4 linked regions of the Homo sapiens genome follow. The protein of the gene in region 1 interacts with the protein of each later gene in a pairwise test. Each region holds a gene or a part of one and is shown in the gene's direction. Other genes may lie near its edges.

Region 1 (9,322 bases):
ACTGCCATTCCTTTTTTTTGTTTGTTTTTGAGACAGAGTTTCATTCTTGTTGTCTGGTCTGTAGTGCAATGGTGCAATCTCAGCTCACTGCAACCTCTGCCTCCCGGGTTCAAGTGATTCTCCTGCCTCAGCCTCCCAAGTAGCTGGGATTACAGGCATGTGCCACCACGCCTGGCTAATTTTATGTTTTTTTAGTAGAGACGGGGTTTCACCATGTTGGTCAGGCTGGTCTTGAACTCCTGACCTCAAGCGATCCACCAGCCTCCCAAACTGCTGGGATTACAGGCGTGAGCCACCATGTCCAGCTATTGCTTTTAAAACATTGTTTTACTTTATTTTTAATTTTTTTACTATCATGTAAAACATTGCTGGGAACAGTCTTGTTCATGTTTCCTGGTGGAGACACACCCTTCCTCTAGGTACATACCTTTGAATGGAATTGCTGGATCATAAGCTGTGCTTATCTTCAATATTAGTACATAAGTATTTCAAAATAGTTAATACTAATTTACAATTTCACCAATATACCAGGAGTCCATGAGGATTTCTGTAACTCAAATTCTCACCAACACTTGGTATAATCAGCCTTTTGAATTTTAGCCATTCTGACAGATGTTCATTGGTATCTTATTATGTTTTTATTAAGGTGGAGCACAACTTCATTTGTTTTTGGTCATTTGGATTTTTTTTTCTCCACAGGGAAAGTTCTACCATTTGGATTTTATTTTTTGAAAATTTCCTGTTCAATTGTATTTTCTGTTGCCTTTTTCAGCTGATTTTAAGGAGTTCGTTATATATTCTAGATGTAATCCATTGGTGGTTATATATATTGCCAATATCTTCCCCCACTAATGTACATGGTATTCCTTTTATTTTCTAAGTGATGTCTTTCAATAGGTTCTTAATTGTAATGTAGTCCACTTTATCAATCTGTGTTAGGCTGTTCTTGCATTGCTATAAAGAAATAACTGGCCAGGCACAGCAGCTCATGTTTGTGATCCTAGCACTTCTGGAGGCCAATGCAGGAGGATCACTTGAGCCCAGGAGTTCAAGACCAGCCTGGAGAATGTGGAGACATCCTGTCACTACCAAAAAAAAAAAAAAAAAACTGGCACACTGGTTCTTGCTGTAGTCCCAGCTATTCTGAAGGCTGAGGCAGAGGGGGCCCAGGAGATCAAGGCTACTATAAGCCATGATTGTGCCACTACACTCCAGCCTTGGTGGCAGAGTAAGCCTGTCTCAAAAAAACAAAAAACAAACAAACAAAAAACCACAAAACAAAGAAATACCTGAAACTGGGTAAATTACAAAGAAAAGAGGTTTAACTGGCTCACGGTTCTGCAGGCTTTACAGGAAGCATGGTGCTGGCATCTGCTTCTCAGGGAGCTTTCAATCATGGTGGAAGGCAAAGGGGGAAGCCTGCGTCCCGCAAGGCCAGAACAGGAGCAAAAGAGGGAGCAGGGGGAGGTGCCACAAACTTAAAGAACCAGATCTCCCAAGAACTCACTGTTTCAAGGACAGCACCACGCCATGAGGGATCCTCCTCCATGATCCAATCACCTCCTACCTAGCCAACACCTCCAACGTTGGGGATTACAGTTCAACATGAGATTTGGTGGGAACATATATTCAAACTATATTGTGATATAGTATATCTTTTCCTTTATGGATATGCTTTGTATTCTGTTTTAAAAAGTGTTCTCTACTTTAAGGACATCAAGATAAGTCCTATATTGTCACCTAAATGCTTTATTTTTTCTACTTTCACTTTTAGATCTACAATTCACATGGAATTAATTTTGGTAATACATAGATATTCAACTGTCCCAATATAATTTCTCTTAAAAAATTATTCCCATGGCCAGGTGTGGTGGCTCACACCTGTAGTCCCAGCACTTTGGGAGGCCAAGGCAGGCAGATCACTTGAGCCCAGGAGTTCAAGATCAGCCTGGGCAACATGGTAAAACCCCATCTCTACAGAAAAATACATAAATTAGCCAGGTGTGGTGGTGTGCACCTGTAGTCCCAGCTACTTGGGAGGCTGAGGTGGGAGGATGGCTTGAACCCAGGAGGTGGAGGTTGCAGTGAGCCAAGATCATGCCACTGCTCTCCAGCCTGGGCAACAGAACCAGACCCTGTCTAAAAAAAAAAAAAAATTTCCACAATGTTCTGCAGTGCCTATGTGTATATGAGTCTGTTTCTGGGGTTCCTTATTCAGGTACACTGGTATGTTTTTCTATTGCACCAATAACATTATCTAGTACCATAGCTTTAAAAGAGATCTTGATGAATGCAAAATAAATCCTCCCACTCTAGTTTTCTTTGGCAAGAGTGTCTGGGCTATTTTGTATCCTTAGAATTGTCATTAAAAATTAGAAACTGATTGTCAGGTTGCTCCTCTCCTTCTCCAAATGAATTTTGTATTGAGATTGATTATAGTTCAATGTGGGGATAATTGACATTTTTACAGATTGAGTCTTTCTATCAATGAATATGATGTATATCTCTTCATTTATTTAGGCCTTCTTTAATTTCACTCTAATTTTTAGTTTTCTGTATAGAAGTTTTACATATTCTGTTCATTGTTAAGAATTTGATTTTTATGCTATTGAAAATAGTATATTTTTCAGAACTTAATATATATTTTCCGCTGGAATATAGACACATAATTGATTTTTCAAAATATTGACTTGTCAGAAGTCTTGCTAAATTCTATATATTTAGTTGTAAATTCTCCTGGATTTTCTAGTTCATAATTGTACTCATGAAAAATGTCCTTTTGTTTTTTATTCCTTTTCAAACTTTAAGCCTTTTATTTCTTTTTCTTGCTTTTATGCAATGGGTAGAGCCATGATACAGTATTGAATGGAAGTAGTGAGAGCAGACATCTTTTACTAATTTTAAATGAAAGGCTTTCAATGTTACACTATCAAGTATGATTGCTGCAGGTTTTTATTAGACATACTTGGTTAGGTTAAATAAATTATCTTCTACTTAGAGTATGTTAAGACTTGTTTTTAATCACGATATTAAATTTTAATAATTTTCTACATCTATTGGAATGATCATATTTTCTTTCTCTTCTAGTCTATTCAGAATATTACATTAATTGATTTCTCAAACAAAGGTAAGCAAACAAATCTTAATCTCTGGAATAAACCCAATATGGCTGTAATGTATTTTCTTTTTTTTGTTTTGTTTTGTTTTGTTTTTTTTTTGAGACAGAGTCTGGCTCTGTCGCCCAGGCTGGAGTGCAGTGCCACCATCTCAGCTCACTGCAACCTCCGCCTCTTGGGTTCAAGCGATTCTCCTGCTTCAGCCTCCCAAGTAGCTGGGATTACAGGTGCATGCCACCACACCTGGCTAATTTTTGTATTTTTTATTTTTATTTATTTTATTTTTATTTTTTTTGGAGACAGATTCTCGCTGTGTCACCCAGGCTGGCGTGCAGTGGCATGATCTTGGCTCACTGCAACCTCCTAATTTTTTTTTTTTTTTGAGACAGAGTCTCGCTCTGTCACCCAGGATGGAGTGCAGTGGCATGATCTCAGCTCACTGCAAGCTCTACTTCCCAGGTTCACGCCATTCTCCTGCCTCAGCCTCCCAAGTAGCTGGGACTACAGGCGCCTGCCACCACGCCCGGCTAATTTTTTGTATTTTTAGTAGAGACAGGGTTTCACCATGTTAGCCAGGATGGTCTTGATCTCCTGACTTCGTGATCCCCCCGCCTCGGCCTCCCAAAGTGCTGGGACTACAGGTATGAGCCACCGCGCCTGGCCACAATTTTTTGGTATTTTAGTAGAGACGGGGTTTCACTGTGTTGCCTAGGCTGGTCTCGAACTCCTGAGTTCATGCAATCTGCCCACCTCGGCCTCCCAAAGTGCTAGGATTACAGGCATGAGCCACCACGCCTGGCCTTTTTTGTATTTTTTTAGTAGAGACGGGGTTTCACCATGTTGTCCAGGCTGGTCTTGAACACCTGACCTCAAGTGATCTGCCCGCCTCGGCCTCCCAAAGTGCTGGAATTACATGCATGAGCCAGTGCGCCTGGCCAGTATTTTCTTTTTCCTATATTGCCAGATATGGTTTGCCAGTATATGGTTTAGGACTTTTCTCTGTTAATATATTTGTTAGTGAGATTAGTCTGTATTTTTCTTTCTAGAATTACCATTCTTGGGGTTTGGTATCAAGCATATGCTAATCTCATAATCTGAATTGGGGAGTATTTCTTTTCTATTCTCAGGAAGAGTTCATTCTATGATTAGTGTTATTTTTTACCCCTCAAATGCTTGGTAGAATTTTCCACTGAAGTCATCTCTGGGACCAGCATTTTGTTTGTGGAGAGATTTTAGATTATTATTATTGTATTCTATTGTGTCATTTTAAAATTTTATACATGTGTGTGTTTATCTATAATATTCCCTTTCTTCTGTTTTCTTTGTGTTTGTTTTATCTAGCTTCTTGAGATGGATGTAAATTTTTTAGCCTCATTTCTTCTAAAATGTATACTTAAGACTAGAAATTTCCCTCTACTACATTACCTATATTCCATACACTTTGATTTGTGGTATTTTTGTTAATTCAGTTCAAAATGCCTTCTAATTTCATGATGATAGCTTCTTTGACTACAGGTTATTTAGAAGTGTGTTTCATGGATGGGTGCAGTAGCTCAAGCCTGTAATCTCAGCACTTTGGGAGGCTGAGGTGGGAGCATCATTTGAGCCCAGGAGTTTGAGACCAGCCCAGGCAACATAGCAAGACCCCTGTCTTTACAAAAAAAAAAAAAAACAAGCCAGGCATGGTTGTACACATCTGTAGTCCCAGCTACTTGGAAGGCTGAAGCAGGAGAATTACTTAAGTCCTGGAGTTTGAGGCTGCAGTGAGCCGAGATCACGCCTCTGCACTCCAGCCTATGGGACAGAACGAGACCATGTCTCAAAAAAAAAAAAAAAAAGAAGAAAGAAAAAAAAAAGTGTGTTTCTTTAGCTGAAATAATATAGGCTTTTTTTCCAGGTATCTTTTCATTATTGATTTCTAGCAAGTTTATATTTTGATTAGAATAAAAACTTCATGCTACTTTAATCCCTTGAAATTGACTGAGACTTGCTCTATGACCCCAATATGAGATTTTTTTTCTGTGACTCTTCCATGTGTTTTTTAAAGCATTATGTATTCTGTCATTGTAGGATATAGTTCTTTATTTATCATTTAAGTAAGTTTATTCATTGTGTGGTTCAAATTTTCAGTATTCTTCCTAAGTTTTAAACTGCTTGTGCAACCAATTGCTAAAAGAATTGTTAAAATATCCCACTTCAGTTCTGGATTCCTTGATTTTTCCCTTTAGTTCTGTCAATTTTCCTTTGTATATTTGGAAGCCATGTTATTAGAGGCATGTAGTTTAAAGTTGTTTTATATTTCTTGTGGATTAAATCTCTTATTATGATATGATTGATCTTTTATATCTGTAAAGTATTTGTGCCTAAAGTCCATTTTGTCTGCTATTAATATATTGATACTAGCCTTCTTTTGCTTAGTGTTTGCATAGTATATCTTCCTCAGTTCTCAAAAAATTTAATTGATTAGCCAGACATGGTGGCACATGCCTATACTTCCAGCTACCTGAGAGGCTGAGGCAGGAGGATCACTTGAGCCCAGAGGTCAAGGCTGCAGAGAGTCATATCCCGCCACTATATTGTAGCCTGGGTGATAGAGTGAGACCCTGTCTCAAAAGAGCAAAGAAAGAAAGAAGAAAGGGATGGAGGGAGGGAAGGAGGAAGGAAGAAACGAAAGAAATAAAGATATAAAAAAGAAAGAAAAAATTAATTGAAATATAATTCATATATAAATTCTCTCTTTTAGTGTACAGCTCAGTAGTTTTATTCAAGAGTTGTACAATCATTATCACTAATTCTAGAACATTTTCATCACTCAAAAAACTGTACAGTTAGCAGTCACTCCCTATTTCCCCCTCTACAAATCCCCTGGGTACCACAAAGCTACTTTTTGAATCTACAGATTTGCCTATTCTGGACATTTCATATAAATGAGATCATATATGTGGTCTTTTGTGTCTGACTTCTTTCACTTAGCATAATTTTATTCAAGGTTTATTTATACTGTGGCATGTATCTATACTTCATTCATTTTTATGGCCAAATAACATTCCATTGTATGGATATACCACATCTTGTTTATCCATTCATCAGTAGATGGCCATTTGTGTTGTTGCCACTTTTTAGCTATTATGAATACTGTTTCTATCAACATTCATGTGCAGGATTTTGTGAGAACATATGTTTTCATTTCTGTTTCTATATACTTAGGAGTGGATCTTTTCCTGTTCTTGTACTGTCCACTTTTCTCTACCTTTATTTTTTAGGTGTGCCTCTCATAAACAACACTCAGGATTTTGTCTTTTCTTTAACTGGACAACCTTTGTATATTAACTTGGAACACTTAATCATCAGGGAAGTACAAATTATGACCACCCTGGGATATGGCTTTATGCAGTAATGGATGTATATCAACGGGGACCCTTATACAGTGGTAGTAAGAGTATAAATGGGCACAATCAATTTGGAAAACAATTTGGCTCTGACTTATAAATTGGAACATTTACATACACTATGATCCAGCAATTCTAATTCTAGATATGTACCCAGTAGAAATAATTCCACTGGAACACCAAGAAGATAAAAACATTAATTTTAGAAACATTATTGCTTATAATAGCAAAGCTCTGGGACCCAAATATTCACATTCATTAGAATGGATAAACTGTGGGATAGTTATATATTTTGGAGATCATGGCATATGAATATATAAGATACCTTTCTTTTCTTTTTTTTGAGCTATATAATTTCCCATGATATGGGTAGACTATAGTTTACCGATGAAATATTAGGTTGTTTACAATATTTTGCTGTTATGAAAAACACTGCGAATAACTTCAAAAATATTTGAGGGATAAATTGCTAGTGTGGATGAGCATTAGTGAGTTTAGTAAGTATTACCAAGTTTCTCTCCATACAGAATATAATAATACCACCATTGATGAAGGAAAGTGTCTGTTTCCCTATGTTGTTGCAAATTTTATTGCTTTCTTTTCCAACTACATTACTTTCTATTTACTTTACTTCCTTTATGGTTTTCCTATAATGTTGAATAGAAGTGATTGTGAATGTCTTTGCATTCCTGAATTTGAAAGGAAATAATTCAAATAATTGTGAATCAAATTATTTTATTATTACTAATTTGATCAAAAATCAGTACGATTATTTTAAGGCCATAGGATATTCCATAAAATGTACCTACCATAATTTACATAACCATTTTCCTATTATTGAGTATTTTCCTTTCATTTCTGAGATTCAGGTCAAAATCCTTAATACTGCGTCATCCATTTGCAATTTATTTTACACAAAAGGAAACAATCCCAATATATTATCACTTAACTGAATTTCTACTTGTGCATATGGTGTCCTGATTAGATTGATATCTCAAGATTCCAGTCTTTTTAAAAATCTCCATTATTTAACCATTTTCCTATAATTGGACATGAAGACTAGTTGCAGTTTTTCATTATTATGAAATACACAGTAACAAAGGAATCATATATTAGATATGAGACCCCCAAGAAAATTGTTCACCTTCTTTAAAGCTTAATTTTCTCATCTATACATTAGTCAATAAAAGTACCTATATTATAGTATTTTATGAGAGTTTTTAAATATGATATGGCATGTAAAGTATATAAAATAGTTTTTGGAGCATGGAATGTGTTCTATAAATATTAGCTATTATGATCATTATGGTACTCAATGAACAGTCTGAAACATTGCTTTTTTTCTCTGGTACATTTAGGTCCTTTCTGAAATGGTATCTATGATTCAGCTATTCAAAACCTAATGAAGTTGGTGACTATGACAATGTGGAGAAATCATGACAGAAAATGTGGTTTGTACTGGGGCTGTCAATGCTGTAAAGGAAGTTTGGGAAAAAAGAATAAAGAAACTCAATGAAGACCTGAAGCGAGAGAAGGAATTTCAACACAAGTATGCTAAAACATATTTATTATTTTGAATTAGTGAAAATTCATATTATCATCACCATAAAAAAGAGCATTCTAAATGCCTTGTTATTGAATTTGATATAGAATTTTATTTACTGAAAACTCAAAATATACTTAAAGAAAACAGCTGACTCAATTAAATTTGTCTATGCGATAGGAGTCACAAAAAATACAAATGTGAAAATGGTAGCTATCTTATACCCTCATAGGACTCTGTTTAACATTCATCAAAGTTTGATTAGTATCATATAGTCTAATTTTCAGGATTGTATGTTCAGCATTATATGCCCTAGGACCTAAAACAACATTTGACAGTAGAAGGTACAGTAGATTCTCATTTATTTGAATAGCCATGTGTTCTAGCCAGAGCTGCTGGATCACTTGATTCCTTGATCTGGGCTATATTTATTTGACTCTCATTTCCTCTGCCTCCATTTTATCTTACCTACTTTCCTGATTGGATGTCACCAAAAAGTATTCTACTAATCCTGCAAAAATAGTCCCTTTCCTCATAGATGCATATAGTTCCATACAATTCTCATTCATTGTCTCTTTCTATCATTATTATTATTATTATTATTATTATTATTATTATTATTATTATTATTTTTGAAATGGAGACTCACTCTGTCGCCCAGGCTGGAGTGCAATGGCATGATCTCAGCTCACTGCAACCTCCGCCTCCCAGATTCAAGTGATTCTCCCTGCCTCAGCCTTCCAAGTAGCTAGGATTACAGGCGCATGCCACCACACTCAGCTAATTTTTGTATTCTTAGTAGAGACAGGGTTTCACCATGTTGGCCAGGCTGGTCTTGAACTCCTGACCTCAGGTGATCCACCCACCTTGGCCTCCTAAAGTGCTGGGATTACAGGCATGAGCCACCATGCCAGGCCATTGCCTCTTTCTAAACATTAAATTAGCAAATGTTATTTGCCGATGTCAGTTAGCAAATAACAAAAAATTCAACTAAAGATGGTTTAGGCGATAGGGAAGTGAGGCTGTTCTGAAGATAGTCAATGCAAAGCCTCAACATCTTTTAAAAGTCAGCTTTTTTTTTTAATCACCTTCCACTGTTAATCCCTGTGTCAGTCTGATCCTCGGATTAGCTTCCTTCAGTGTTACAAGATGACTGATGCACTTCCAGGCATCACAGCCAATGATCATTATGTTTTCAGAAAAGTGGAAACTATTTTTTTCTATTTCTTCTTTAAGAGTAAAGAAATCTTTCACAGAGGGTCCCTAACAAACCT
Region 2 (7,333 bases), on another chromosome or scaffold:
TTTACTCAACAGATTGAAGAATTAAAGAGGCAACTTGAAGAGGAGATAAAAGTAATTATGATTCTAAGACTGATTTTTTCCCTCATGAGCTGATTCTACATGGAGCCTGTTATACCAGCTTTCAAAAGGTTTTGAAAGTTAAGAGTTAAATATTTAAATATCCAGTAAAATGAAGGTGTAACTGCCTCCATAGGCCAAGAACGCCCTGGCGCATGCCCTGCAGTCTTCCCGCCACGACTGTGACCTGCTGCGGGAACAGTATGAGGAGGAGCAGGAATCCAAGGCCGAGCTGCAGAGAGCACTGTCCAAGGCCAACACCGAGGTTGCCCAATGGAGGACCAAATACGAGACGGACGCCATCCAGCGCACAGAGGAGCTGGAGGAGGCCAAGTATGTGCACAGATATGAGAGAATGAGCAGAAAACTTTGCATATTGAATCAGAAAGACATGACCTTTGAAGATTCAGTGAATTAGTCCACAAATGCTCATTAATCTGCTTTTATGTGCCAGTCACAATCAGGCCCTGAGAATAAGACATGAATAAATCAAATATGGTCCCTGCCTTACGATCCTAAAATCTAGTTAAGAAAACAAAGAAGAGCAAATAATTACACTGATAATTAGGGGCCTCATTGCTGTTTGTCAAGCACAATGAGCTCATCGCTGCATCAGGGGCTTGTACCTGCTTTTCTCTCTGTCTGAAATACCCTCTCCACAGACTTCCCTTTGGCTCTCTGACTTTTAGCTCTTGACTCAAATATCTCTTCATGGAGGCCTTCACTGAATATCTAGAGTAGTTGCCCACCATTTATTTTATTTTGCTTCATTGCACTTGTATCTGTAAGGTATTATTACGGATGTTCTGATTTGCTTATTGTTTACCTCTCTCACTTGTTTGTGGTCTTCATGAAGCAGAGATCTTTTTTGTCTTGGTCACTGCTGCGTAGCCAGTGTCTGGTTCATAAAAGGGGCTCATCAATATTTGTTGAAAGAATGAAAGGTGGCTGGGCAGCATTAATGTGAAGTTTCTAACACTCTTCAGCGTGTGTGGCAATAGCTCATAATTCATATTATGGTTCACTTCTCTCTGAAAACATGTATAATATTCAAGGAAGAAGCTGGCCCAGCGGCTGCAGGCAGCTGAGGAACATGTAGAAGCTGTGAACGCCAAATGTGCTTCCCTCGAAAAGACGAAGCAGCGGCTGCAGAATGAGGTCGAGGACCTCATGCTTGATGTGGAGAGGACAAATGCCGCCTGTGCCGCCCTTGACAAAAAGCAAAGGAACTTCGATAAGGTAATTCCTCCAGCATCTTCTGCTCTTTACTCTACTCTTTTGTCTTTGCAGCAGGTAACAGGTCTTGGTTTTTCAGATCCTGGCAGAATGGAAACAGAAATGTGAGGAAACGCATGCTGAGCTTGAGGCCTCCCAGAAGGAGGCCCGTTCCCTTGGCACTGAGCTGTTCAAGATAAAGAATGCCTATGAGGAATCTTTGGATCAGCTAGAAACCCTGAAGCGAGAGAACAAAAACTTACAGCGTAAGTCCCTATCATATTCAATAATATTCATAACTTGGAAGAATCTCTCCCTTATGTCACATGTTTAACCAAATCCCTACCTGTCTTTTACTCAAACAACAGAGGAGATTTCTGACCTCACGGAACAGATTGCAGAAGGAGGGAAACGTATCCATGAACTGGAGAAAATAAAGAAACAAGTGGAACAAGAAAAGTGTGAACTTCAGGCTGCTTTAGAAGAAGCAGAGGTACATGTAAAATTGTGCATTATAAAAAAATCTGGAAAATAATTAGGTACATCTGCATAGAGTGAATAAAAAGACACATAGCACAAAATTATTGCTGTGCAGAAAAACTTCATAAAGCTTTTGGTTCCTTGCTAATGTCACCTCTTGCTGTCATTAAGGCATCTCTTGAACATGAAGAGGGAAAGATCCTGCGCATCCAGCTTGAGTTGAACCAAGTCAAGTCTGAGGTTGATAGGAAAATTGCTGAAAAAGATGAGGAAATTGACCAGCTGAAGAGAAACCACATTAGAATCGTGGAGTCCATGCAGAGCACGCTGGATGCTGAGATCAGGAGTAGGAATGATGCCATTAGGCTCAAGAAGAAGATGGAGGGAGACCTCAATGAAATGGAAATCCAGCTGAACCATGCCAACCGCATGGCTGCTGAGGCCCTGAGGAACTACAGGAACACCCAAGGCATCCTCAAGGTAAATATGTCCAAGAGATGGTCCCAGGACTATTGGGGTGCCTGCAACCCTGAGAACATGATGTCTCAATGATGGTTTGTTTCACAGGATACCCAGATCCACCTGGATGATGCTCTCCGGAGCCAGGAGGACCTGAAGGAACAGCTGGCCATGGTGGAGCGCAGAGCCAACCTGCTGCAGGCTGAGATCGAGGAGCTGCGGGCCACTCTGGAACAGACAGAGAGGAGCAGAAAAATCGCAGAACAGGAGCTCCTGGATGCCAGTGAGCGTGTTCAGCTACTGCACACCCAGGTGGGATTCAGCACAAAGAACTCTCCTTAGTAAATTTTATATGTCCCAGAATAGATAAGCCTGAGTTTTCATAAGACAGCTAGACCTAATATGTCTATCAAATTTTCTTTTCAAATAATACAGAATAGTAATTCTGCATTACTGAGAAATCTTTCACTGTTTTGCTTTGAAAAACTATTGTTGATTTGCTTCATATAATATTCTAAGGCTGCCCCCGTATTCTATTGTGTTAATATCTTTATTGGCCCTCATTATCAATATTCACATTTCATTCTGGAGAAATGGAATGTTATGAGAAAGTCCATTATACTTTTATCCCTGTGAATGGTCTATTGGTAAATGATAATTATAAAATTATAGAGCTACTTGGTCTGCTTGTGACCTATACACTTGAAGATGCTGAATATTCTATAACATTTATATTTTATTTAATCATATTACATAACACAATCCTTTAATTCTTTAATATTAAAAGGCATTTTTTGACTTGCAAATTTTTATCTGAATTTTTTTCAAGAAGTGGTTACCAATAAATACTTTGGTAACACAATTTTTTAAATGTACAAATTCTTTTTAAACAGAACACCAGCCTGATCAACACCAAGAAGAAGCTGGAGACAGATATTTCCCAAATGCAAGGAGAGATGGAGGACATTCTCCAGGAAGCCCGCAATGCAGAAGAAAAGGCCAAGAAGGCCATCACTGATGTGAGTGGCAGGCACACTTGTCCACTGATTTAGCAGTAAGATTTCCTGACATCTATAACTTTCTTGGTTTTCTTGATTTATTTGCTATTTAGGCCGCCATGATGGCTGAGGAGCTGAAGAAGGAGCAGGACACCAGCGCCCACCTGGAGCGGATGAAGAAGAACATGGAGCAGACCGTGAAGGATCTGCAGCTCCGTCTGGATGAGGCTGAGCAGCTGGCCCTGAAGGGTGGGAAGAAGCAGATCCAGAAACTGGAGGCCAGGGTGGGTCTCCCAATATCTGTCTATTTCCATCTGCTTTCAGTGCCTTATTGGATCAAAGTTCTTAAGAGCCTACTTATTTGCAGGTACGGGAGCTGGAAGGAGAGGTTGAGAGTGAGCAAAAGCGTAATGCTGAGGCTGTCAAAGGTCTGCGCAAACATGAGAGGCGAGTGAAGGAACTCACTTACCAGGTACAGCCAGTAGTTTTTAGCGGCTAAGCACTGGTCGAAGTTTATGTGAAATACTCATATGCAATGATGCAATAGTCATGTGCTTTAGTAATTAAGGTCCTGGACTTTTTATAATCTTTCAGACGGAAGAAGATAGAAAGAATATTCTCAGGCTTCAAGATTTGGTAGATAAACTTCAGGCAAAAGTGAAATCTTATAAGAGACAAGCTGAGGAGGCTGTAAGTATTTTTAAGATTGAAGTCCTCAAATTAAGCTAATAAATAATTACTACTTCTTGTAGTGAACAAGCTGTTTGCTTTAAAGACTACTGCATGCATATTTAACATTTGTTTTTGTACAATAATTCTTGTGTATCATTTGTAATATCAGTAGCTTCATTTTAAAAGTAAACTTTCAATCCACCAAGAATCCTGAAAAAAATTAAAAGCAGAAATAATACAGGCCATATTCTCCGGCCACAGTATGACGGAGTTGTAAAGTGATGACAAAATATAAGCAAAAATTCTTGAGTACTTAAATATTAAAAAAACTAACTTTCTTAAATAACTCTTGGTTTAAAGTAAAAATAAAAACATAATTACTAAATAATTATTAATTATAAGTAAAATCACAAGGAAGATGCTACTTTTACAAACCTACAGAATGTAGTCAAAGCTGTGCTAGGAGGCTAATTCATTGCTTTAAATGCTTTCATTATGAACCAAAAGTAAAAATAAACAAACAGACAGTCCAATAAATAAATTATAAATAATAATAAAACAGTAGAAGTAAGAAGTACTGTTAAAAATAAAAGTAGAAATTGGTGAATTAGAGTATACTATTTTCTATTTGATAACTTCAGTAATATTTGTAACTTCTGGGGAATTAATAAAATAAATGTATTATAACTAGTTTCATCAAGGAAAATAAGAGAGAAAATATAAACAACATTAGAAATGAGAAAGGGAATAAGCTATATACATAGAGGATTATTTTTTAATATAAAACACATCTATCAATAAAGTTGAAACCCTGAAAAAAATTGATGATTTTTCTAGGAGGATATAAATTACTAAGTTGGCTGAATTACTTCTGGAAATGGACCCAAGTCCAGATAGGTCTTTCAAAATTTCAAGGAACAGATAATCCCCCAGCTATGTAGCTGTTCAAGAGCATGGGAAAAGATAGAAAGCTGTCCAGTTCATTTTAAGAAGCTCACATAACCCTCATACCAAAACCTGCCCAAGAGAGGACAGAGGGAGAAAAACTAAAGGCAATTTTACTCATAAAGACAGTTACAGCAAAGATAAATTACTAAGTAGTAAGTCTTACTTTATTAAAGGAATTGTCTTCCAGTGATTAAATAAGGTTAATTCTTACAATGTAAAGATTACCTAATATTAGGTTATCTGTCAATAGAATCATTACATCCAATGCAGGAGGAAAAAAGTAACCATTTTGAAATGTGCCAAAATGATACATGACAAAATCCAATATTTATTTCAATTTTTAAAAACTTAATAAGTTCATTCTTAATATGATAAAAAAAATCTAACTCAAGGGAAAATCATCATCTTATAGCAAGCATTAACAACTATGACTTTAATATTCTTGCCTTCCTCTCTAAGCTTATATTTTTCTTCTTATTCTACTTGTGGTACATATATTTTATGTGTTTTGGTTGCCAAAATAGGAATGTGAGATACGTATGTATGTATGTGTGTGTGTATATATATATATATATATATGACATCAATAAACAAATCTTAAAATTAATTTCAATGATAATCCCTAGATGTTGCTTCTCCATAGATGCCAAGTCCTTTCTTCTATTAGGTCTAAAGAGTCTAGAAAGATGCAAGTATGAGTTCCTTACAATTCCATTTTTATTCTCAGGAGGAACAATCCAACACCAATCTAGCTAAATTCCGCAAGCTCCAGCATGAGCTGGAGGAGGCCGAGGAACGGGCTGACATTGCTGAGTCCCAGGTGAACAAACTGCGGGTGAAGAGCCGGGAGGTTCACACAAAAGTCATAAGTGAAGAGTGATCATGTCCTGATGCCATGGAATGACTGAAGACAGGCACAAAATGTGACATCTTTGGTCATTTCCCTCTGTAATTATTGTGTATTCTACCCTGTTGCAAAGGAAATAAAGCATAGGGTAGTTTGCAAACAATATCCTTAGACTGGTCTTGTCTTTTCTCTTTCCTGAAGCCATGTCAAAGTTTGAATAGTCACCAGAGTTGTCAAACAATCACATTCAATTGGTGACTTTTTTGGGGGTCTACGGCAACACTTTAAGGCTGTAAAGATGTCACTTATCCAGAAAGACTGTTCTAATGAACAGAAATTTGGAAGTCTATTTTATTTCTTTCTAACCTTTCCTGATATCTGAGTACAGTAAAATCTTAGAAAGCTCCTGCTTCCCCTAACATGAACCTTTTTCAGGATAGTACTAGCTATATTCTCACATAGGGGATTCAAACTGAATTGTATCATTAATTCTCTTTGTTGAATAACTGTTATCAAGAATATAAATACAAAATATTCTTAATTAGCCCATGGATATTTACATTATCAATTCCAATGTACCATATGCCCACAGTAGGTGCACTGGGTAATGGGTTTGACACGACCTTGTTCTTCACGAAGCAAGTTTCAAAATTAAATTAAATATGACTCTTCTCCCTATGAAAACTACAGGGTGTCTATCAAATCTGGAGACATAGAGAATATTATTTTTACGTTATAATGTAGTATCCATGAGCTATTAGCTTATGTTTCCAATCTTTATGGTCTCCCAGATAATCATATAAAGAGCCAAAATAAATGACTAAAAGTGTCAAGAAAATATGATCTCAAAGTAGGTTATTCAAATCTATATTCAACACACATAATGATGGGTATGAGTTTGGTACAAAAAGTAGATATCATAGCAATCTGGACCACTCAGAGACGTTTTCCTAGAGGATCAAGATTTTTAAACTGGATGCAGCTGAGATGCATAGCCAAAAATATAACCTTCCTCGACAGAATAAAGGAAGAGCTAAATGGTAACTTCCCATCAAATAGAAAGCAAGAGTATCTTGGTCTAAATGGCACTGTGTGAAAATGATGTAAATTAGACATGGTAGTTTAACAGGTAAGTTGGATTCACACTGTCGCACTGGCCTTAGAAAGGGTGTGGAATTGCTCTTCTCGCTGCATAAGCCCCTCTTTCACTTTGTTCCTGTATCACGTGGAATTGCTTAAGTGCTTTATAACGTGGCAGTAATAAACAAAAACAATATCTTACTTCCTACTTATTGAAAAGTTTATCCAGAGCAAGACAAAAGGTTGTCTGAAGATTCCCATCAGATCCTATTGAGAGCATTATTAAAATGTTTTATCTTCCTGAAAATCATTACCCACATTTTGCAGGTGCCTAGTAAAGAAACAGACATGTAAGAAAGTAAAATTAGGTACCTGTGGTAACAAAGCAGGCTAATAGATGGCTAGGAAAGGCCCTCTCAGACGCACATCCCTGCAATACCCTTCCTGATGGCTTTAATCTACCCCAGGTAGAAGAGTGTCACAAGTGAGTACGCTGGACCGCAAGTCAGATGACCAGAGTCTAAACTGCTGTGTGATTTGTGGAGATTCTCTTCTATTTTTTGGATCTCAGTTGCTT
Region 3 (9,322 bases), on another chromosome or scaffold:
GAGGAGTACAAGAAGGAAGGCATTGAGTGGACGTTCATTGACTTTGGGATGGACCTGGCTGCCTGCATCGAGCTCATCGAGAAGGTTGGCTTGCTTTTTGCAGACCACAGATCATACTGCTGTACAGTATTTAAAAGAAAATCATAAAATCTTGATATAGGCAATGGCTAAATATTTCTACTTGTGAAAAACATGAGGAGAATTCCTTATTTTGCCAACTCTGAAGTAGATATTCTGGTAAAAGGAGATTAAATATTTTCTATAGAGTCCAGAACACAACACTTACCCACAGTTTGCAATACAAAGTCTTACATTTAAAGTCATCTTTCCTTACAAAAAGTGCACTGACTAGAATATTTTTTACTTACTGTTTTTTGTCATCCTAAAGTCATTATTACTGCATTCAAAGTATGAATTTCTACTACTGTACGTTAAAGCAGAGGCTTTTAAAATCCAGTGTGCGAAAGACCCACCAAGAATACTTGGTACAATTGCAGGTTTCCCTTGTCTCACCCCTAGAAATATTTTCTGGTAAGTGTAGGATGAAACATCGGAATCCTCATTTTGAGCAAGTGATTCTGATGCAGCTAATTCGCAAGTCACACTTGGAGAAATATTGCTCTCAGGTCTTTGGGGTAAAGACACAAACTCCACAGGAGCACAGCCTTCATCTGTCTTACTCTGTCATATCCCAGAGCCTGATACAGCACGTGGCTCCTGATCAGCACCCAATAAATATTTGTGAAGTTAATGACTTCTGACCAAAGGAACGAGTTTTCGTTAACTCTGTAGAATTAAAGGATGAATTTACTCAGATGGGATAATTATTAATGTTAAATGTTATTTCTATAAGCAGACAGAATTCAAGTGGCATTTATTTCTTTTCATTCTTCCAGCCTATGGGCATCTTCTCCATCCTGGAAGAGGAGTGCATGTTCCCCAAGGCGACAGACACCTCCTTCAAGAACAAGCTGTATGAACAACATCTTGGAAAATCCAATAACTTCCAGAAGCCCAAGCCTGCCAAAGGCAAGCCTGAGGCCCACTTCTCTTTGATTCACTATGCTGGCACCGTGGACTACAACATTGCCGGCTGGCTTGACAAGAACAAGGACCCCCTGAATGAGACTGTGGTGGGGCTGTACCAGAAGTCTGCAATGAAGACTCTGGCTCTCCTCTTTGTTGGGGCAACGGGAGCGGAAGCAGGTAATTATCAATATAATTAATCTTTTACCTAATGTATAAAACATAACTAGAGGCCAGACACGGTGCCTGTAATCCCAGCATTTTGGGAGGCCAAGGTGGGTAGATTGCCTGAGGTCAGGAGTTCAAGACCAGCCCGGTCAACATAGCAAAACCCCGTCTCTACTAAAAATGCAAAAATTAGCCGGGCATGGTGGCAGGTGCCTATAATCCCAGCTACTCGGGAGGCTGAGGCAGGAGAATCGCTTGAACCCAGGAGGTGGAGGTTGCAGTGAGCCGAGATCACGCCACTGCACTCCAGCCTGGGCAACCAAGAGTGAAACTTCGTCAAAAAAAACAAAAAAAAACAAAAAAAAAAAACCATAACCAGAGAAAGGCTGTCCTATGATTGCTTTCTTTTTCCCCTCAGAGGCTGGCGGTGGAAAGAAAGGTGGTAAGAAGAAGGGTTCTTCTTTCCAGACTGTGTCTGCTCTCTTCAGGGTACAAACTTCATTTTCTCTGTCTAATTAGATTTAGGATATTAAATGTACTCTATGGTGTGGGGGAAAAAACTAACCTTGCAAGGATTCTAGAACTGATGTGACTCAACGAGATAGTTCAGCTGGTAGTGGTAAGACTGAGTTTTAGGGAGCTTGAGGATAGTTTGGAAGAGGGGATAGTTTGGAAGAGATACCTCACTATTCAGAAGACACAGGAGTCAGGAGAGATGAAAGCGAATTGCAGAAGTCAGTATTAGACGGCAAAATTCGATTCTGGGGCCTGAGAATGAGGTCATTTAACCCTTAAAAGACTCCAGTGGGATAGGATTAAGTAAAGCTGAGACTTGCTTGAGGCTTTGGGAGCCTCCAAGTGATTTAGGTGCTTAAAGATACATTGGTATAGAACCGAAATGAGTAGATTTTGAAAGCTATAAGATAGAACAGTGGTGGGAATTGGAGCCTGAGTCAAAAGAAGGAAATAAGAAACCAGATGTGATAATAAATAGCACTTTTAAAAAAATTACGGCCAAGCACAGTTGCTCACGCCTGTAATCCCAGCAATTTGAGAAGCCAAGGCAGGCAGATCACTTGAGGCCAGGAGTTCGAGACTAGCCTGGCCAACATGATGAAACCCCATCTCTACCAAAAATATAAAAATTAGCCAGGCATGGTGGTGCACACCTGTAATCCCAGCTACTCAGGAGGCTGGGCATGAGAATCGCTTGAACCCAGGAGGCAGAGGTTGCCATGAGCTGAGATCATGTCACTGTACTCCAGCCTGGGTGACAGAGCAAGACTCCATCTCAAGGAAAAAAAGAAAAGTCTATTTTTCTTTTGGCAATCCCATTTCTGATTCCATCTCTAATAACTGATGCTGTAGATATTCGGAAAAACCAGGATTTTCAAAAGATGGAAAACTTTACACGCTTGGTAACATGGCTGTCAGTTTTCTACCAATTCCCAGAATAGGCATTAATAAAGGCCACTTTCTGTGGAATAAGTAGGAGGACACAGCTCTATATCTATGGCAAGGAATACACATTTGATAGACACACAGATACAAGTGAAAGTCAGGTAAAGAAAGAAGTGAGTGTGACTGGGCACCATGGCTCATGCCTGTAATCCCAGCACTTTGGGAGGCTAAGGCGGGTGGATCACTTGAGGTCAGGAGTTCGAGACCAGCCTGGCCAACATGGTGAAACCCCGTCTCTACCAAAAATACAAAAATTAGCTGGGGGTGGTGGCATGTGCCTGTAATCCCAGCTACTCAGGAGGCTAAGGCAGGAGAATTGTTTGAACCCGGGAGGCAGAGGTTACCGTGAGCCAAGATTGCGCCACTGTACTCCAGCCTGGGCAACAGAGCAAGACTCCATCTCAGAAAAAAAAAAAAGAAGAAGAAGAAAAGACAAAGAAAAAAGTGGGAGAATTAGAGGAAGGCATTGATTAGTAGTAAAATCAGACCATGTATCTAGGCAAAAAAAGAATGGGTAGAGTATTTCCATATATTTAGAGTGTCATAGTGAATTTAAAACATATACTAGGAAATTAAACAGCAGCGAACAGTCACTTCAACAGCAAGTAGAAAACTATGCTTCTAATGCACACCAACAGAAAACAGGGGGACATATTAGGAATGTGGAAATTCCAGAGATAACTCTTTGAAAATTTTCATCTGGATACTATTCATTAGAATTAAACCACTGTCATAGATCTCAATAATTATGTCTATAAATATGAATGTAGAAAACAGTACATTTTTTAAAGTATAAACTCGCATGGTTCCACAGGAGAATTTGAATAAGCTGATGACCAACTTGAGGAGCACTCACCCCCACTTTGTGCGGTGCATCATCCCCAATGAAACTAAAACTCCTGGTAAGACATTTCTGATATCCAGACAAGCTCCAGTGTGTGTGTGATAGACCACGAAGTATGGCATGTGGATTCATTCTTTTAGGTGCCATGGAGCATGAGCTTGTCCTGCATCAGCTGAGGTGTAACGGTGTGCTGGAAGGCATCCGCATCTGCAGGAAAGGCTTCCCAAGCAGAATCCTTTATGCAGACTTCAAACAGAGGTCAGACATTTTTGCTGTAAATTATTTTAAGAGGTTTTTATTACTTTTTAAACATTTTTCAATGAAAGAATCCTTTATACCTCCTCTTAAAATTGAAGAGAAGATAAACTCACTTAACAAACTCCATATTGACATAAGAAAACTCTGAAGTCCTTTGAATAAACAGAGGATAGATAAAGGGGTAGATATGATTTCTTGTTTATTTCAGATTACCCAGTGGCTATGTTGTTTCTATAGCCAGACAGGAAGATTTCTTGTCTGTGGCAACAGCCATATCATTTTTTTGTCTGGCTTAAACAGATACAAGGTGTTAAATGCAAGTGCTATCCCTGAAGGACAATTCATCGATAGCAAGAAGGCTTCAGAGAAGCTCCTGGGGTCCATTGACATTGACCACACCCAGTATAAATTTGGTCACACCAAGGTAATATTCTGTAAATCCTACCTGATGCTATTCCTGTCCCTTTGAACTTTATGTAAATTTTCTGATCTGAAATTCTTCCCACACATAGGTCTTTTTCAAAGCTGGTCTTCTGGGGCTCCTAGAGGAGATGCGAGATGAGAAGCTGGCCCAGCTGATTACCCGAACCCAGGCCATGTGCAGAGGGTTCTTGGCAAGAGTGGAGTACCAGAAAATGGTGGAAAGAAGGTATTAATAAGAATTCTTTACTTAACCTCATCATCTTAGGTGTTTTAATTCTGCTTCTTATTATAATCTGATTTGGACATTTCTGTTCCTATGACAGAGAGTCCATCTTCTGCATCCAGTACAATGTCCGTGCCTTCATGAATGTGAAGCACTGGCCCTGGATGAAGCTGTATTTCAAGATCAAACCCCTCCTCAAAAGTGCAGAGACAGAGAAGGAGATGGCCAACATGAAGGAAGAATTTGAGAAAACCAAAGAAGAGCTGGCTAAGACCGAGGCAAAAAGGAAAGAGCTGGAAGAAAAAATGGTTACTCTGATGCAAGAAAAAAATGACTTGCAACTCCAGGTTCAAGCTGTGAGTATCCCGAAGTCATTTCCTGCAATCTGATGCTAAAACTTCAGCTCAGTGGTCACTAAGGAGAGATCTAGATTCTACCAAATAAGGGACAGATTATGAATCTTTAATAATCCACAACTCCTTAGAATGTTCTATAGAATTCCCTATACAATATTACTAAAAATCACTGTGGTAGGATTCTTTGATGTCAAGAAGGGAAAAATAAAAGCATTTTTCCTTCCCCTCTGTTGTTTTCTACAGCAGAATGTGAACAGGAAATAAAGTGAGCTTTGCTCCCTAAATTCTCCCTACTGAAAAATGCAAATAAGAGCTGTGAAAAAGAAAAATATTGTCAGTGAAGAGGAAGGAGACTTTGATGAAAACACATTAACTTGAAATCAATATTCTGAGTTTTGTATCTACAATCCCCGAGCAACTTTGTGCTCAACTTTATTTTTAGAAACTTTTAGTACCTGAAAGAGTAGGATTATGGCAAGAATAATGGCAATGCTTTCTGTAAGGATAATGGCAATGCCTTCCACAGATAATGTCTATTTTTATGCAAAGTATGAGAGATAGGGTTGATATTCTTATTCTAATGTCCCAGTAACTATCCAGAGGCTTGGAGAGAAATATTTGATCAAAAGCCACTATCTAACCCATTTTTGTAACACAAATAACAAGACAGTTCAATTGCTGCCACCAAAACCAACAGCAGAAACATTAAAAGTTACCATCCCAGTTCTCTGAATTCAGAAAGGGAATTGACTAGTCCCATTGTGCCTACAAGTTTGGGACACATATTTAGAAAATCTAAAGTATGATGAATTGCAAATACCTAGGTTGGTACTGTGACTTTCCTGTACTTTGTATAGATCAGGGTTTTCCACATTGAGGAGTGGTTCATCGTGCCTTCAAGAAACAGGAGATAATCTATCCAAGAATACTCCTCTCCTTTGAGGATAGTATTATAAAACTTCTGTTTAACAATATTCTATCAACTATCCACTAATAAATATTGGGTGAAGTCCCGGACAGGGATGTAAGTTTGAATGAGAGACATGGTCCTTCCCTCACAGTTTATCTCAACTCCTATTTCTTCTTATGAGAAATATGCTTGCTACTTCTCTAAGCATCACCTTGAACATGTTCCATTCCCTTTGTCTACTCTGTCACTGGATGACATTTCTTCCTGTTAAGGCACTTTTCTGATAGTACCCTTCTCTCCCAGCAACCTGCTAGAAACCCAATCCTTTTGTCTATTGGTTTTTCATATATTGAATGCTCCTGAAAATAAATATTAAATAAAGAAAATTGGCTGACCCGAAATTATATACCAACATATTATATATGTTATAACAAATATAATTGTAACATAATTTCACCAGGAACTATGACTTAAGTTCCTTTTTTTATTACCGGACTCATAAGTGCCCAATATTTACTGAATGGTAGAAAGCTAATAAAAATTAACCTGAAGGCTTAAAACAATTTACTTGTTTGGTTTCAAAATATTAATAAAATCTGAAAATGTCTAGGAATTTTCATAAAATCTAAAATATCTATTGCCTCTTCTCAGGAAGCTGACAGCTTGGCTGATGCAGAGGAAAGGTGTGACCAGCTAATCAAAACCAAAATCCAGCTAGAAGCCAAAATCAAAGAGGTGACTGAGAGAGCTGAGGATGAGGAAGAGATCAATGCTGAGCTGACAGCCAAGAAGAGGAAACTGGAGGATGAATGTTCAGAACTCAAGAAAGACATTGATGACCTTGAGCTGACACTGGCCAAGGTTGAGAAGGAGAAACATGCCACAGAAAACAAGGTATCAATCATATTCTACAGTACTGTATAGAGGTTCTGCCACCCAACAAAGGTGCTTTAGAGCAACTAAGCTGCTTTCTTCACCTTTGTAGGTGAAAAACCTCACAGAAGAGATGGCGGGTCTGGATGAAACCATTGCTAAGCTGACCAAGGAGAAGAAGGCTCTCCAGGAGGCCCACCAGCAGACCCTGGATGACCTGCAGGCAGAGGAGGACAAAGTCAACACCCTGACCAAAGCTAAAATCAAACTTGAACAACAAGTGGATGATGTAAGCCTAACATTATATAAAAATGATTTTTTAAATTTTGTAACAAACTAAGTAAGCATAAGTTTGTGTCGTTATGATATAGTGAGTACTTATCAAGTGCCTCCTATGAATGAGGAATATGGAACATCATCCCTATTACAAGGTCTAAGATGTACACACAATAAAGTTTTTAAAATCAATAAAGAAAGTTAACTGTGAATAATAGACAATACGGGTAAAAAGAATTGATGGAAAGGAAGGTTAATGTGTTCACAAAGAAAAGCTATACAAGCAAAACAGGTCTTTCGCTGGGCTTGAAAGACAAGGGGCTATGTGCAAAAAGAAAGAAGAGGGAGGGTGTTCTAAGAAGGCAGCATAGCAGCAGCAAAGAAGTTGTAATGATCAATAAGGTTTTCTCTCACAGAAACAAAGGACACTCAGAATTAGGAATGTGGAAGATAAATTTGGCTTTAAACATGATCTGATATCTAATAGAGAACCCACTGAAAATGCCTGAGTAAGGGAGGCGTTAAAAAAGTTCATGGTTTGGAAGTATTAGCATGGTGTCCATCCCAGCTGGAAAAGTATTGGATTCCAGTGGGGAGATGCAGAAGGCATAATGTCTCACTAGTAACTTATTGTAACAACGTGACAAAGAGGCACATTTTACCTTTTAAACGATGACTTTTTCGACTAGGTAAATACCAAGGAGAATGGAATCAATGGGACAAATCTGCCTAATTCATAGAAAAATAGTTTGCTGCATAGATATAATGTTTAAAAATTTCATCTGGGACAAAAGGTGCTACCATTCTAAGAACCATATTCATGGATTATTAACTTTTAGCTTGAAGGATCTTTGGAACAAGAAAAGAAAATCCGGATGGATCTAGAAAGAGCAAAGAGAAAACTAGAGGGAGACCTAAAATTGGCTCAAGAATCCACAATGGATATAGAAAATGACAAACAACAACTTGATGAAAAGCTTAAAAAGTAAGCAGTTTTAGGTCAACAGTTTTGTGGGGAAATTACTCTTAATATTTCTGAGACTGACATAAAGGGCTTTTCTAATAGGAAAGAGTTTGAAATGAGCGGTCTGCAAAGCAAGATTGAAGATGAACAAGCCCTTGGTATGCAGCTGCAGAAGAAAATCAAGGAGTTACAAGTACGTTAAATGATTTTCGCCAGGCTAATTTAACATCGAAAAGTTACTGACACCAAGAAGTTGAGTTCGTATTAATATTTTTCACCATTCCCAGGCCCGCATTGAGGAGCTGGAGGAGGAAATCGAGGCAGAGCGGGCCTCCCGGGCCAAAGCAGAGAAGCAGCGCTCTGATCTCTCCCGGGAGCTGGAGGAGATCAGCGAGAGGCTGGAAGAAGCCGGTGGGGCCACCTCAGCCCAGATTGAGATGAACAAGAAGCGGGAGGCTGAGTTCCAGAAAATGCGCAGGGACCTGGAGGAGGCCACCCTACAGCATGAAGCCACGGCGGCCACCCTGAGGAAGAAGCATGCAGATAGTGTGGCCGAGCTTGGGGAGCAGATTGACAACCTGCAGCGAGTGAAGCAGAAGCTGGAGAAGGAGAAGAGTGAGATGAAGATGGAGATCGATGACCTTGCTAGTAACATGGAGACTGTCTCCAAAGCCAAGGTACAATCAACACTTCACATTGATTATTTGGTTTTTTGTTTTTCCCTTTAGCACAAATATGATTTGTATCTCAAAAACGTCTCATGAACTAAATCAGGCACCCTTTTTCTCATATCACGTATAGTACAACTTAGTAAAGTAGTTAGATTAACAAGTAATTCAGTGGCTGTATGCTTGGACTATGTATCTTATTAGTCTTTCCATTCACTATCTAAGACCTTTGCTGGTTTTGTTTGTAAAGATAGTTTCTTCTCAAAATAAATGAGTACTGCAGCTCATATGGAATGTTTAGATTACTGAAACTTTCTTTGGTCCAACTACTTACTTGAGATGCCTTCTACCACTTTTTGAATGCAGGGAAACCTTGAAAAGATGTGCCGCGCTCTAGAAGATCAACTGAGTGAAATTAAGACCAAGGAAGAGGAGCAGCAGCGGCTGATCAATGACCTCACAGCACAGAGAGCGCGCCTGCAAACAGAATCAGGTGGGCCATGTACCAGTACTGACCTTGAATGACAAATTCACCCTGCATGTGTAATCCACTGAAAAACTCTGCATTTATTTACTTGAGGTCATATACTACCTCCCTGGGAGATCCCCACTAATATGAACACATTATTGACCACTGGCATGAGGTTGCTTTCTTTCATATATATACGAGAGAAATATATGTGTATATATATGAAACATATATATCCATATATATATTTGTATATATATCCATACATACATATATATATATATATAAAGAGAGAGAGAGAGATAAATAGAATCAGGCCCTTCTATTTTTGAAGACTTTAAGGGAGACTTGGCTTTAATCAAAAAGTTATCAAAAACAAAGTGCATCCTTACAGTACCTCTTT
Region 4 (5,099 bases), on another chromosome or scaffold:
CTTTTGCAGTGCCCTGTGGAGTTTTGTTCTTTAATCTAGTATGTGTGAGAATGACATCATCCACTTACCTCATCCCCTCTTCCTTACCCCACTACATTCTTGGTATAGCTATAAACATCTCTGGAATATTGTCCTGGTAAAAAGTTGTTTCCATCTTCCTTGGAATATTGTCATGCTCCTACGTAAACATGTTGCTAAAGAGCTCCAGGGTAATACTGCAGACCTTTTGCTATTTGAAGTCTTTTTTCAGAGTTTAGTAATCTTAGATACAATGTCTAGAATGTATGCACTTTCATAGGAAAAGGGAAAGCAGGTACAAAACGATCAATAGTCTAAAAGTGGGCTTGTTGTTTTAAAAAAAAAATGACCACCTTTAATTCTTTCTGGAGAAAGGGTATGAAATCAGGTAACAAAGTGTAGTATATATTTGATCATTTTTCTCTCTCCATGTCTAGAACACCAGCCTCATCAACCAGAAGAAGAAGATGGAGTCGGATCTGACCCAGCTCCAGTCGGAAGTGGAGGAGGCAGTGCAGGAGTGCAGAAACGCCGAGGAGAAGGCCAAGAAGGCCATCACGGATGTAAGTGACCGCCCACCTTCCGCCTCCCCTAAAGACAGAAACAAGGCCTTGGGTCCAGGCCAGGCCACTGTGCTGTAACACCAAGCCAACTCTGCAGTTCTGTGGATTTGAGGGCCTGATGGGAGAAAGGAGATCCTTGGGGGGCAAAAGGCCCCGGCCCCTGGCCCATGTTCCTTGCCACCTCTCTCCTGCACACAGGCCGCCATGATGGCAGAGGAGCTGAAGAAGGAGCAGGACACCAGCGCCCACCTGGAGCGCATGAAGAAGAACATGGAGCAGACCATTAAGGACCTGCAGCACCGGCTGGACGAGGCCGAGCAGATCGCCCTCAAGGGAGGCAAGAAGCAGCTGCAGAAGCTGGAAGCGCGGGTGCGGGAGCTGGAGGGTGAGCTGGAGGCCGAGCAGAAGCGCAACGCAGAGTCGGTGAAGGGCATGAGGAAGAGCGAGCGGCGCATCAAGGAGCTCACCTACCAGGTGCGGCGGACGCCAGACACCAGGAGTAGATGTGGAAGTTTCTTCTCTGGCCCCACTGCCCCGCCCTCACAGGGCTCCTCTCACCTCCTCCTTGAGATGCTGTTGGTAGATTTAACGTTCTTCTCACGCTCTGCAGTCAGTTTGACTTGAGTCTATGAGTTTTTCCAGCAAATGAAGAATCTACTTCTACTTCCTGAAAACTCTTCTAACTAGTCTTTCCCCAGGTTTCTTTCTTTCTTTTTTTTTTTTTTTAATAACTCTAAGTGCTACCATGAAGACTTCAGAACAGTTCAAAGAATCCTTCCACCTTCGACTGTGGGGATAAGAGTCAGGGGAGGGGAAAAGACCCGGAAATCTTCCATAGAACTTCTGGCACACAAAGAGAAGGCCACAGAGAAAGAGGACCCTAGAATGCTCTAAAACCTCCACTTGCATAGCTGAGAGCTGTGCCCTTGGCCCGTTATTTTCAGTGTACCTGGGAAGAAAAGGCCAAGGAGACGAGGGTGTCAGTCCATTTGATAGATGGATACCAGAGGCACAAGAAAGAGGTTACAGATACAGAACCACAGAGTGATTTGTGGACAGAAGTAGAAATGGCATCCTGGCACATACAATGATAAAGAGATAGGAATGATCGAGTGACGTTGGAGCCAGTGATCCCGATGCCTGAATTCTGGCCCAGTACAATATATTAGAATGTAGAATAATCTGGATTATGATAATACCCCCTTCTTTCTGCATTCTTTTTCTGGTCAAGAACTACTGGCCAAGAGAACCTATGTAAGTCCAGGTTGGAGCTTTATCCACCATACTGGAGCTGGAACAGACCTGGTGCTTTTATATTACCACATTAGGGAATTCCATTAGGTTCTGAGCCCCTCCCCCTACTTCTAGCTTTATGACTTCAGCCTTCATTGCTCTGTGGATCCCTGACTGACAACCTTGCATTGCCCCTTTGACCTACGATAGAGTCAGAGAATCTTCCCCACCACCTCTTTGACCTGGATCATTGCAGGGAGGGGCAGCAAAGGCAAGGGGAGAAGAGTAAAATGATGGAGGAGGGAAAGGTGATTGCATTTGCTCCCCCTCCAAACCAGCTTCTCCCACCCTCCCACCCCCAGACAGAGGAAGACAAAAAGAACCTGCTGCGGCTACAGGACCTGGTGGACAAGCTGCAACTGAAGGTCAAGGCCTACAAGCGCCAGGCCGAGGAGGCGGTGAGTTCAGAGCTTTCTTCCCTTTCTCATCAACACACCTACTATTTGTGAGAACCAATGAATATCTCCTACAGAGGGGCCTGGACAAAGAGTTTGCTATAAACTTTAACTCTCAAACATTTGTTTGACACATCTGGTATGCTCAGAGCTGTCAGGTGTTCTGAATTAACAAAGGCACCACCTACAAGCTGCTTACAATTCAGATACCATAACCCAACAGAAGGCAGTGTAGATGCTAGTGCAGGACGTGGGGCAGCCGAAGCTGAAGGCAGGAAGGTGGCGGTGGAATTGGGCCTAGAAGGGGACCCAGCTAGCCACAGGGCAGTGGGGAAGACATCTGGGTGGATGTGAGTTGCTGATTAGCATGCCTGCACAGGAAGCTGGGGTCCGGGACAGGTGCAGCAAAACAGGATTCTGAAGGGGCCCAGATCGGGCAGCATGGGATTTGTCTGGGGCAGTGGATGGCCGTGAAGGACTCTGAGTGCTGGACATGTTTGAGAAGAGTGCAAGGCAGTTGCAGGATACCCTTGGGAAGGCTGTTGCAGGAATATGCATGAGGTATGGGTGCCTCAGGGACAGGGAGCTGGAACCTCAGGTTGAGAGGCTGAGAATCCCATAGCCCATCTCCAGCTCATTCACCCATCCCCACTGTCCCACCACAGGAGGAGCAAGCCAACACCAACCTGTCCAAGTTCCGCAAGGTGCAGCATGAGCTGGATGAGGCAGAGGAGCGGGCGGACATCGCTGAGTCCCAGGTCAACAAGCTTCGAGCCAAGAGCCGTGACATTGGTGCCAAGGTGGGTCCCTCCCCTGGGCTTCACTAGTCACTTCCACATTAGCATGCCCCCTGATATGGGTGCCCTTCAGAGTGGGCACTGCTTGCCCTATATGTAGGCAGTTCTGAGGGTCCCATAGCTTACATAACCTGAGAATCCACTCTCCTGCTCAAAACAGCCCCCCACTGACTGGAACTTCTGCAGAGATCCCCAGTTCCATCCCCCTAAACCACAAGTGCCTCTAACGTGGGACCACAGGATCCCTGGGGCCCTGCCTCTCCCTCCAAGGGCATCTCCCTTAGGCCTCTGAAAGCCCCAGGGATTTGTCCCCACACACTTCTCCCTCTTGCCAGCTGCCCCCTCACACCTCTTATTCTTTTTGCAGCAAAAAATGCACGATGAGGAGTGACACTGCCTCGGGAACCTCACTCTTGCCAACCTGTAATAAATATGAGTGCCAAACTCTGCCTGAGCCCATCTGTCCTTCCTGCCAGCTGTCCATCCTGGATCAGGGCAGTAGGGGGCCTGAGAGGAGGGAGGCCCCCAGCCCCTGTATCAGAGCTGCCAGAGCCAAGGCATCCCATATCCACAAGGAAGGAGACCGAGGTGCAGAGGAGTGAGGTGTTCTGCCTGACGTGGACAGCTGTGAGTCCCAGTTCTGCTCAGTCAACCACACAAGGGTGGAGAGGGAGAAATTTCAAAAGTGAAGAAAACAATGGCATCAAAATGGTGAGCCAGTCCAAGATGCTACGAGATAGAATTTTGGTGCCGAAGTTGAAGCCACTCTCCACCTACCCCACCCCTGAGGCTGCAATGATTAAAGGTGTCCTAGGACACCCATTCTTTCTGAAATGAATTTTCCACCAATGCCAGAAAAGGCTCAGAGCTGGCTGAGAATTAAGGTATGGGAAAGGAGATGGGAGAGATTCCATTCTAGTCAGCCCCTAGGAAGTAACTCCCAGGGAGCCCCCTCCCTGTCTTCCCCAGGGGTCTCCCCCTGCCTCCTATGATTCAGCACCTCACCGTGAGGGCATCTTGAGACTCTGGGGCCAATCAACACTGAGCCCAAACCAATATGCCATGAGGACCAAGCCTGGGCATTGCTCATTTCATGTTGGTTCTCACACAGACACAGATGGCACAGGTGCCTGTACAGGGAAACACTGTGGTCACATTTCTGCTCTCTCTAAGCTCCTACTGGGGACAGTCTGGCCTGGATCACACAGCTGCTTGTGGGACAGGCCCGGTCCTGACCCCGTTCTGCACAAAGCAAATCCCCACTCCCCACTGGGCTTTGCAGCCAGGCTCTGCTGACCGCCTCCTTAACCGTTCACCTGGCACCCCATCTCCCTGACTCCCCAAGTGGAGCCTCTTCTATCCCTCCTCTGAGACCATGAGAATGGACTGTGCATAAAGCCCTGAGAAATGTGAGCAGTGACCAGAGAAACACAAAATCCTGTTGGTTCTAGCCCAGGAGAGGCTGCCAGTTCTGATGGTGAGCCAGGACACAAGGATAGGAGAACAGGAAGCAGGAGGCAGGAAAAAGACCAAGAGAGAGGAGTGGCTGCCACCAAGGAAGCAGAGCGCTCTGACCAGAGTTCAAGATCCAGGGTTCGGGCAGGACTTGGGAGCTGGGGCCTGCAGCTGGAAGGAGCGCTCCAGAAGAAGGATTGTATCTCAGGGCGGGAACACACACACATCAGCGACAGGAGATAGCACGTCAGCTGGGATGGAGCTGCTGAGCCAGGCCATGCTGGGCTCCTCGGGCTGGGCAGGAACGTCTGGCTGCACATCTGTCTGTCTCGGCCCAGCAGGGCTGACTCCCGGGCTGTGGCAGTGTCTGCTCCAAACTCCCCTGAGCCTTCCCATAGCATTCACTGTGGGGAGCTCTTGACCAGCTTGTCTCTTTCCCAGCCTGTGAGTGCTAAAGGGCAGGCCCCCCGTCACCTCTGAGGCCCTGGCACCCAGCACAGTGTGCATGGGAGATGCTCAGGAAATGTGTGCTGAGGAGCTGGCAAGCTGGGAGGGTGGACCCGCAGTGGAGGGAAGAG

The links.
Region 2: the proteins of LRRC39 (region 1) and MYH2 interact in a two-hybrid assay, tested with the Homo sapiens proteins (one study listed by IntAct).
Region 3: the proteins of LRRC39 (region 1) and MYH1 interact in a two-hybrid assay, tested with the Homo sapiens proteins (one study listed by IntAct).
Region 4: the proteins of LRRC39 (region 1) and MYH6 interact in a two-hybrid assay, tested with the Homo sapiens proteins (one study listed by IntAct).

Annotation. Positions count from the first base shown.
Region 1 is NC_000001.11:100,167,136-100,176,457, reverse strand, and holds part of LRRC39 (leucine-rich repeat-containing protein 39), read left to right. Parts: intron 1-3,087; 5' UTR 3,088-3,127; intron 3,128-7,863; 5' UTR 7,864-7,941; coding exon 7,942-8,054; intron 8,055-9,322. UniProt on the Homo sapiens protein: Component of the sarcomeric M-band which plays a role in myocyte response to biomechanical stress. May regulate expression of other M-band proteins via an SRF-dependent pathway. Important for normal contractile function in heart.
Region 2 is NC_000017.11:10,519,656-10,526,988, reverse strand, and holds the end of MYH2 (myosin-2), read left to right. Parts: coding exon 1-51; intron 52-193; coding exon 194-390; intron 391-1,112; coding exon 1,113-1,296; intron 1,297-1,372; coding exon 1,373-1,538; intron 1,539-1,640; coding exon 1,641-1,765; intron 1,766-1,923; coding exon 1,924-2,232; intron 2,233-2,319; coding exon 2,320-2,523; intron 2,524-3,104; coding exon 3,105-3,230; intron 3,231-3,322; coding exon 3,323-3,493; intron 3,494-3,576; coding exon 3,577-3,681; intron 3,682-3,803; coding exon 3,804-3,899; intron 3,900-5,556; coding exon 5,557-5,709; 3' UTR 5,710-5,841; downstream 5,842-7,333. UniProt on the Homo sapiens protein: Myosins are actin-based motor molecules with ATPase activity essential for muscle contraction.
Region 3 is NC_000017.11:10,500,247-10,509,568, reverse strand, and holds part of MYH1 (myosin-1), read left to right. Parts: coding exon 1-84; intron 85-896; coding exon 897-1,206; intron 1,207-1,612; coding exon 1,613-1,683; intron 1,684-3,469; coding exon 3,470-3,557; intron 3,558-3,639; coding exon 3,640-3,757; intron 3,758-4,057; coding exon 4,058-4,181; intron 4,182-4,269; coding exon 4,270-4,406; intron 4,407-4,503; coding exon 4,504-4,759; intron 4,760-6,320; coding exon 6,321-6,563; intron 6,564-6,654; coding exon 6,655-6,831; intron 6,832-7,657; coding exon 7,658-7,803; intron 7,804-7,884; coding exon 7,885-7,975; intron 7,976-8,069; coding exon 8,070-8,459; intron 8,460-8,816; coding exon 8,817-8,943; intron 8,944-9,322. UniProt on the Homo sapiens protein: Required for normal hearing. It plays a role in cochlear amplification of auditory stimuli, likely through the positive regulation of prestin (SLC26A5) activity and outer hair cell (OHC) electromotility.
Region 4 is NC_000014.9:23,380,398-23,385,496, reverse strand, and holds the end of MYH6 (myosin-6), read left to right. Parts: intron 1-455; coding exon 456-581; intron 582-779; coding exon 780-1,055; intron 1,056-2,176; coding exon 2,177-2,272; intron 2,273-2,934; coding exon 2,935-3,069; intron 3,070-3,433; coding exon 3,434-3,457; 3' UTR 3,458-3,510; downstream 3,511-5,099. UniProt on the Homo sapiens protein: Muscle contraction.